Regions from separate parts of the Homo sapiens genome. Here region 2 is linked to region 1. Evidence: fine-mapped expression QTL. A gene starts in region 1. The other region holds a variant in brackets. All regions are shown on one strand. Distances are from middle to middle.

Region 1 (4,389 bases):
ACGTGACTCCAGAGCTGAGGGCTTTGGAACCCCGCCTGCTCCGGTAGTTGTGGCTGGCCTTGCCCCACACACATTTGGTTCTAGCTCCTTTGCTTGGGTCTTCATCCATGCAGCGAATTCCTTAGCCACAGGTGTCCCTCTGCTCTCTAACTCACAGCGAGCTCGCTGCCCAAAGTCCTGCTCCGGCTTCCTGGGTGGACCTGACCGCGTTCGGGTGCACGTGGGGCGACTCACACCTGACAAGTAAAGCGGGTGAGGCCGCGCCTGTGAAGGGCGCCTGGCTCCTCCGCAGGAGCGGTGCGGCGCGGCGCCCCCGGCTGGAACCAGGTGTAACTGCAGAGACCCTGGGATCGCAGGAACGGCTGGCGGCAGGACTGTCCCTACCTCGAGAAGGTGACGGGGTTTCCTGCGCTGCCAGCCGATGAGGCGGCCGTGACGCAGCCCGCCGTGCAGAGTCCCCGTCGGCCGACAGGCGTGCAGAGCTCTGCAGAGGACCCTTCCGCCCTCTGGGCAGCCTGCCAAGCCGTGGCACCCCCAACCCCCAGCACTGGGCACTTGGGAGCATTGCAGCCGCCCTGGCTCGTACCGGTGCCGGTGCTTTGGGCACCTGGGCTGGTTTGGACATGGGTGCCCCGGGCAGAGTCCATTTATGCAGGTCAGAATCAGTGTGTGGAGCCTGCATAGACTTGCCCTGGAGCGGCTGCCTGTGCTGGGGTGGGGAGGAGTAGAGGGCGAGAAGTTGGTGGGGAAGGGAAGCGGCGCCAAAAGAATACCCACAACATCTTGCACCTGGAAGGCAAAGCAGAGGGCAGTGATCTCTGCAGACTTGCGGGGGCGACGCCTGAAGCAAACAGGGACATACAAGCTGGTGCCTTCTGTGGTTGTGCATGGGGTCTTCATGCTTCCTGTCTGAGTTCCCAGAAGCTTGTCTCTGCTTTTCTAGGCAGCTGCCACAGCCTGTCACAAACAGCTCCTGGTTCTCCACTTCTCATAGTCTCGATTTCAAAATCCATTGCCTCACCCTCCACCTCCTCTCCACCTCCACCCCTCCTAGCACCTCCTGACTGCTTGTGTTCTGTGTCTCCCCACTGTCTCCCAACCTGGGGTGGGGTTGGGGGGGATGTCTTTCCTCCTGTCTGCTCTTTGATGTCCAGCTGAAGTGTCACCTCCTACAGGCAGCCTCCCCTGGCTATGCCAGCTTGTACTGATTGCCCTCTCCTCTGAATTCTGTAAGCATTTCCTATGTGTACCTGCCCCTGGGCAAGGTGGGCCTGACTTGTTAGAGTGTTAGAGTTTTACCCTGTTCCTCTAGGAGGGCCTGGTACCACCACAGCCCAGCATGGTGTGGTGCCTCAGCAGGAGGCATCTGGTTACAATCAACACAAGCTGTTCCAGCCAATTTAAAGAAACTTCAGGAGGAATAGGGTTTTAGGAGGGCATGGGGACCCTCCTGCACCCGAAGCCAGGATGTGCCACCAATCATAAGGAGGCAGGGGCCTCCTTCCGCTGCTCCCTGGGACTCTCTAGGTGTCCGTGGCCTCAGTCCCCCTCTGCACACCTGCATCTTCCTTCTCATCAGCTTCCTCTGCTTTAAGCGTAAACATGGATGCCCAGGACCTGGCCTCAATCTTCCGAGTCTGGTACTTATGGTGTACTGACAGTGTGAGACCCTACTCCTCTGATCAATCCCCTGGGTTGGTGACTTCCCTGTGCAATCAATGGAAGCCAGCGAGGCAGGGTCACATGCCCCGTTTAGAGGTGCAGACTTGGAGAAGGAACGTGGGCAAGTCTTCCCAGGAACAGGTAGGGCAGGGAGGAAAGGGGGGCATCTCTGGTGCAGCCCGGTTCGGAGCAGGAAGACGCTTAATAAATGCTGATAGACTGCAGGACACAGGCAAAGGTGCTGAGCTGGACCCTTTATTTCTGCCCTTCTCCCTTCTGGCACCCCGGCCAGGAAATTGCTGCAGCCTTTCTGGAATCCCGTTCATTTTTCTTACTGGTCCACAAAAGGGGCCAAATGGAAGCAGCAAGACCTGAGTTCAAATTAAATCTGCCAACTACCAGCTCAGTGAATCTGGGCGAGTAACACAAAACTTGAGTGTCCTTACCTGAAAAATAGAGGTTAGAGGGATGCTATGTGCCATTGTGTGTGTGTGTTGGGGGTGGGGATTGGGGGTGATTTGTGAGCAATTGGAGGTGAGGGTGGAGCCCAGTGCCCAGCACCTATGCACTGGGGACCCAAAAAGGAGCATCTTCTCATGATTTTATGTATCAGAAATTGGGATGGCATGTCATTGGGACAGCGTCTTTTTTCTTGTATGGTGGCACATAAATACATGTGTCTTATAATTAATGGTATTTTAGATTTGACGAAATATGGAATATTACCTGTTGTGCTGATCTTGGGCAAACTATAATATCTCTGGGCAAAAATGTCCCCATCTGAAAAACAGGGACAACGTTCCTCCCTCAGCCAGCCACTATGGGGCTAAAATGAGACCACATCTGTCAAGGGTTTTGCCCTCACCTCCCTCCCTGCTGGACGGCATCCTTGGTGGGCAGAGGTGGGCTTCGGGCAGAACAAGCCGTGCTGAGCTAGGACCAGGAGTGCTAGTGCCACTGTTTGTCTATGGAGAGGGAGGCCTCAGTGCTGAGGGCCAAGCAAATATTTGTGGTTATGGATTAACTCGAACTCCAGGCTGTCATGGCGGCAGGACGGCGAACTTGCAGTATCTCCACGACCCGCCCCTGTGAGTCCCCCTCCAGGCAGGTCTATGAGGGGTGTGGAGGGAGGGCTGCCCCCGGGAGAAGAGAGCTAGGTGGTGATGAGGGCTGAATCCTCCAGCCAGGGTGCTCAACAAGCCTGAGCTTGGGGTGAAAGGACACAAGGCCCTCCACAGGCCAGGCCTGGCAGCCACAGTCTCAGGTCCCTTTGCCATGCGCCTCCCTCTTTCCAGGCCAAGGGTCCCCAGGGCCCAGGGCCATTCCAACAGACAGTTTGGAGCCCAGGACCCTCCATTCTCCCCACCCCACTTCCACCTTTGGGGGTGTCGGATTTGAACAAATCTCAGAAGTGGCCTCAGAGGGAGTCGGCAAGAATGGAGAGCAGGGTCCGGTAGGGTGTGCAGAGGGCCACGTGGCCTATCCACTGGGGAGGGTTCCTTGATCTCTGGCCACCAGGGCTATCTCTGTGGCCTTTTGGAGCACCTGGTGGTTTGGGGCAGGGGTTGAATTTCCAGGCCTAAAACCACACAGGCCTGGCCTTGAGTCCTGGCTCTGCGAGTAATGCATGGATGTAAACATGGAGACCCAGGACCTTGCCTCAGTCTTCCGAGTCTGGTGCCTGCAGTGTACTGATGGTGTGAGACCCTACTCCTGGAGGATGGGGGACAGAATCTGATCGATCCCCTGGGTTGGTGACTTCCCTGTGCAATCAACGGAGACCAGCAAGGGTTGGATTTTTAATAAACCACTTAACTCCTCCGAGTCTCAGTTTCCCCCTCTATGAAATGGGGTTGACAGCATTAATAACTACCTCTTGGGTGGTTGTGAGCCTTAACTGAAGTCATAATATCTCATGTTTACTGAGCATGAGCTATGTGCAAAGCCTGTTTTGAGAGCTTTATGTGGACTAACTCCTTTAATTCTCACAACACCCTTTAAGGCACAGATACACCACGTTATTCCATCCATTTTACAAATGAGGAAACTGAGGCATGGAGCAGTTAAGCATCTTGCCCAACATTGCCCTCCAGTAAGTGCTGGAGCTGGAATTTGCACCGTGCAGTCTGGCTTCATGGCCTGCCCTGTGAATCCTGTAAAAATTGTTTGAAAGACACCATGAGTGTCCAATCAACGTTAGCTAATATTCTCAGCCCAGTCATCAGACCGGCAGAGGCAGCCACCCCACTGTCCCCAGGGAGGACACAAACATCCTGGCACCCTCTCCACTGCATTCTGGAGCTGCTTTCTAGGCAGGCAGTGTGAGCTCAGCCCCACGTAGAGCGGGCAGCCGAGGCCTTCTGAGGCTATGTCTCTAGCGAACAAGGACCCTCAATCCCAGCTTCCGCCCTGACGGCCAGCACACAGGGACAGCCCTTTCATTCCGCTTCCACCTGGGGGTGCAGGCAGAGCAGCAGCGGGGGTAGGCACTGCCCGGAGCTCAGAAGTCCTCCTCAGACAGGTGCCAGTGCCTCCAGAATGTGGCAGCTCACAAGCCTCCTGCTGTTCGTGGCCACCTGGGGAATTTCCGGCACACCAGCTCCTCTTGGTAAGGCCACCCCACCCCTACCCCGGGACCCTTGTGGCCTCTACAAGGCCCTGGTGGGCATCTGCCCAGGCCTTCACAGCTTCCACCATCTCTCTGAGCCCTGGGTGAGGTGAGGGGCA
Region 2 (4,389 bases), 38 kb after region 1:
ATGACAGTGATAAGTGGCAATCAATCCACCATCTGCTTTGCCGGTGACCACAGCAAAGTAATAACAACTGAGAAGACAAAAAGGGAGGACCAAGAAGGAGGGGACAACTCTTGCCTGGAGGAGAAAACATCTTCTCTCTCGCCCTGTGGCCCTGTTTCTCCTAACCCAGGAACCAAAGACAAAGGGGCTGGCTGGCTGTCTAGAGTGTTCTGGCGGGGAGGGAGCTCCACCTAAAGGGCTGAAACTCAATGGCTGGCTGCCCCAGTATGGAATGGAAAAATGGTGTCCCTGCAAAAGCATCCTGCACAATTAGTGAGGAAGGTGGGAATGACCCCCAGCGAAGGCTTTGGACCCTGGCCCACAGATACCTTGTTGATGGGGATTTTTAAGGCTTGGAAGGCTGCTGACCCTATGTTAGCATAGGGTCTTAAGGGTTTGGGCAGACTGTCAATGGAAAATGTTAGCTGAGGCCAAAGGTCTTGGTCAGCTGGGGATGTAGAAGTGGGCTTATCAGACGACAGGCTGAATGCAACACAATGGTGTGGCAAGCCCTGAGCAGCTTAAGGGAGTCCTGACTCCATCTGCTTGTTTCTTAGGAGAGCTTCCGACAAAGTCCTCTTCAGGGGCAATGATACTAATACTAAGACAATTCAAGGGGCCATAGCTGCCTGGACTTACTGGAAACTTAGAAAAGACAAACTCAGAGTGCTGCCCATGAATTCTACAAACAACACCCTACCTGGCCTAAATCCAAATTACTATGAACAGTAAGACTTCCCCTCTCCTAAGCCAGACAAGCTTCCTACAGCCAGGCATCTCCTTAAATGTGAACCCTGCAATGAACAAGAAAGGTTACTTTGGATCCTAAGGAGGGGGGCGCTCAAGATTGGATGATCTCTAGTAAATTGGTTTAACAGTTCCAATAATTACTAGGGTTAGACGACAATTCTCAGCAGGTGTCTCCTCTGGAAACAGCCCCTCCTTCATATCTGGCCGTGTCCCCCATACGGATCCAGTGGTCCATGTTCATGGAAAACAGACCCTTCTGGTAGACAATCGCCCTTTTACCTTTCTCCACGTTAATAGTAATCTGGGCAGGGCGCAGTGGCTCATGCCTGTAATCCCAGCCCTTTGGGAGGCAGAAGTAGGTGGATCACTGGAGGTCAGGAGTTCGACACCAGCCTGGCCAACATGGTGAATCCCCATCTCTACTAAAAATACAAAAATTAGCTGGGTGTGGTGGCAGGCACCTGTCGTCCCAGCTACTCAGGAGGCTGAGGCAGGAGAATTGCTTGAACCCAAGAGCGGAGGTTGCAGTGAGCCGAGATCACGCCATCGCACTCCAGCCTGAATGACAAGAGCAAGACTCCGTCTCAAAAGAAAAAAAAAAATAGTAATCTGGACTCCAAAAAATAAACAACACTGGGTGACCAAATCTCATATTACAGGAAATGCTCATGCTTTAAAGGGATCCGTGGACTTTGTACCCTTGCTTGAACTAAGTCAGCGTGACAGGCTGTAATCCTTCCAAGGGGAATGGTTTGGGAGGATTAATTAAAGGGATAATTACCCACTTAACTGTTAGTATTGGCCTGGTTTTGCTACAATGTGCACCCCATTATTGGAATGGATCTCCTCAGTCACTATGTAACTCACGGAACAAGCCCAAGTCTTTCACGCTATTGGTGGGTGCCAGGGGTGAACTTTCCCCTCGTGGTGCAGGTGGTAAACATGCTACCTTACCGCTGAGGCGGGGCATGGAAGGATTACTGCCTGTCACAGCTCACTTAGTTCAAGCAGGGGTGCGAAGTCCACAGGCTCACCCCCACCCTTTCTCAGAGAGCTGGTTTCATATGGCTGGATTCTTTTGTCACAGTCTGCATTTCATCCTAGGATTGTCCTGATTCCCTAAATGAATTGTATTTTTTTGAGACAGGGTCTGGCAGCCTCGAACCCCTGGAGGCTTAGGTGATCCTCCCACCTCAGCCCCCAAGTAGCTGGGACCACAGGCTCAGCTAATTTTTACTTTTTTTTGCAGATATCAACCTCTCTATGTTTCCTAGGCTGGTCTCAAACTCCTGGACTCAAGCAATCCTCCTGCCTTAGCCTCC[A/G]CAAGTGCTGGGATTACAGGCATGAGCAACTGCATCCGGCTAAACAACCTCTCTTCTTGCAACACTGTTTCCTTGTGAGCTCATTAACATGCTAATTACCACATTCCACAGGAAGATGGATTACAGAGCAATAAGACAGGCTGGGTTCACCCTGGAACGTGACCAGTAGTGACAGCCTCTAACAATGACACAGGTGGGGACCACTATCGGAAGATGGAGATTCTGGGGAACTGCTACCAGCTGCAGGGCTGAGAGTGACATATCTGACATTTGTTCATTGTTCATCTGTTCATACAGTCATTCTTGCATGAGTTTACTGGACACCTGCTGTGAGCAGGCACTGAGTGGCATAAAAATTCCTAGAACAGTCTCATCAGAGAAAAGACACACACAGAAAGAGAAATTATACTACAATGCAGTTATGGAAACTCATTCAACAAAATTTTACTGAATGCTTACTATTTGTCAGGTACCGTTATCGATGCTGGGAGAAGAGAAAAGGACATCATTTTGCCCTCAGGGAGCTCATGGTCTAACGGAGAGAGAGACATGTGAACAACTACAACGTCTGCGGTCTAAGAAAACACTAAATTGGAGACGTGTTCAAAGCAGTGCAGGGGAGGGAGCGGAGTGAGACTTCCGGGGTCACCCAGAAGGGCTTCCCGGCAGGTAAGTTGCAGCTAACCCACACAGATGTTAATTACAGCAAGAAAAGATCTTTCACAGTGCTCCCTGTGCGTCAGGCAGGCTAGAGGTCTTGTCAAAAGTATGGCATATGTATCACATGCAAAATGATTTGAAGTAGAATGTGGACCAATTTTTAATTTTTTACTTATGCATCTAAATGTGCATTACAAAAAAATATAATGAGAAAACCAAACTTTCACCAATATGATTGCTCAGAGTGAGGCTAAAGGAATGAGTTTTAAAACTGATTTGAATCACAAATAGTGCTTAGATGTGGAGAGCATCTTAAATGTGGCTTGCCAATGACTGGATTTTGGAAAGCACCGATATGCGCATCTTTTTTTTTTTTTTTTTTTTTTTTTTTTTTTTTGAGATGGAGTCTTGCTCTGTCGCCAGGCTGGAGTGCAGTGGCGTGATACCGGCTCACTGCAATCTCCATCTCCTGGGTTCAAGCGATTCCCCTGCCTCAGCCTCCCCGAGTAGCTGTGACTCCAGGCACGCACCACTATGCCCGGCTAATTTTTTGTATTTTAGTAGAGACAAGGTTTCACCACGATGGCCAGGAAAGTCTCGATCTCCTAACCTTGTGATCTGCCCACCTTGGCCTCCCAAAGTGCTGGGATTACAGGCGTGAACCACCGCACCCGGCCACATGCATCTTATTTTAGTGAGATGAGATGTAGGAGTTAGCGAGGTAGGGAAAGGGAAGAACAGTAGACACAAGGAACACCAACTCAAAGCACACAGGAGAGAGTGCACGGGCTGCCTGAGAACAGGTGGTGGTGAAGCACGGTGGGCTGCGGGGCACGCGGAGGGCTGGAGGAGTGTGCGGGAGCAGAACCCCTGCTTCTGTGTTCCACTGCCTGTGTAAACTTCTCAGGTCGGTTCCCATGGTCATGTCTCTCCAGGAAGTTTCTCAATGGCACACACCATGTTACCCTCCCTTATGTCAAGCTTGTCCAACCCGTGGCCCAGGATGGCTATGAATGCAGCCCAACACAGATTTGTAAACTTTCTTAAAACATTATGAGATTTTTTTTTTTTTAGCTCATCAGCTATCATTATTGTATTTTACATGGAGCCCAAGACAATTCTTCTTCTAACACGGCCCAGGGAAGCCAAAAGATTGGACTTCGCCACTTTAAGATAAGCGGTTGTTGACTTTAAGACAAAAAAGGACACTTTATAATGACTAAAAAAATCAATCCATCAGGAATACACACCATTATAAACATAATGTACCAAACAACTGAGCACCAAAACACATGAAGCAAAAACTGGTAACACTGAAGGGAGAAACAGACAACTTAACAAAAGTAGTTGAAGACTTCAGTGCCCAACTTTCAATAATGGACGGAACAGCTAGGCAGAAGATCAGCAAGGAAACAGAAGGCTGAACAAGCTACACCTACAGACCACTGCAGAACACCCAATCACAGAACACACATTCTTCTGAAGAGCACATGAAACATTTGCCAGGAAACATCAAATGCTAAACCATAAAACAAGCCTCAATAAAATTAAGAGGACTGATATCACACACAGTCTGTTCTGTGATCAAAATGGAATGAAATTAGAAATCGATAATAGA

Evidence for each region. PIP is the estimated chance that this variant, and not a neighbour inherited with it, causes the effect. A credible set is the group of variants that fine-mapping cannot tell apart.
Region 2: its variant is the best candidate, but not a certain one, in a credible set for the expression of PROC in whole blood (INTERVAL, PIP 0.66).

The regions. Positions count from the first base shown.
Region 1 is chr2:127,415,743-127,420,131 of GRCh38, forward strand. It overlaps PROC (protein C, inactivator of coagulation factors Va and VIIIa), which reads left to right and starts at 2,685. Exons shown (of 9, transcript NM_000312.4): 1 at 2,685-2,750; 2 at 4,180-4,270. The coding sequence starts at 4,201. RefSeq lists enhancers at 1-408, 789-848.
Region 2 is chr2:127,453,586-127,457,974 of GRCh38, forward strand. It overlaps LOC124907884 (a long non-coding RNA gene), which reads left to right and starts at 2,074. Exons shown (of 2, transcript XR_007087229.1): 1 at 2,074-2,304; 2 at 2,581-4,336. The variant A/G (reference allele first, on the strand shown) is at 2,112.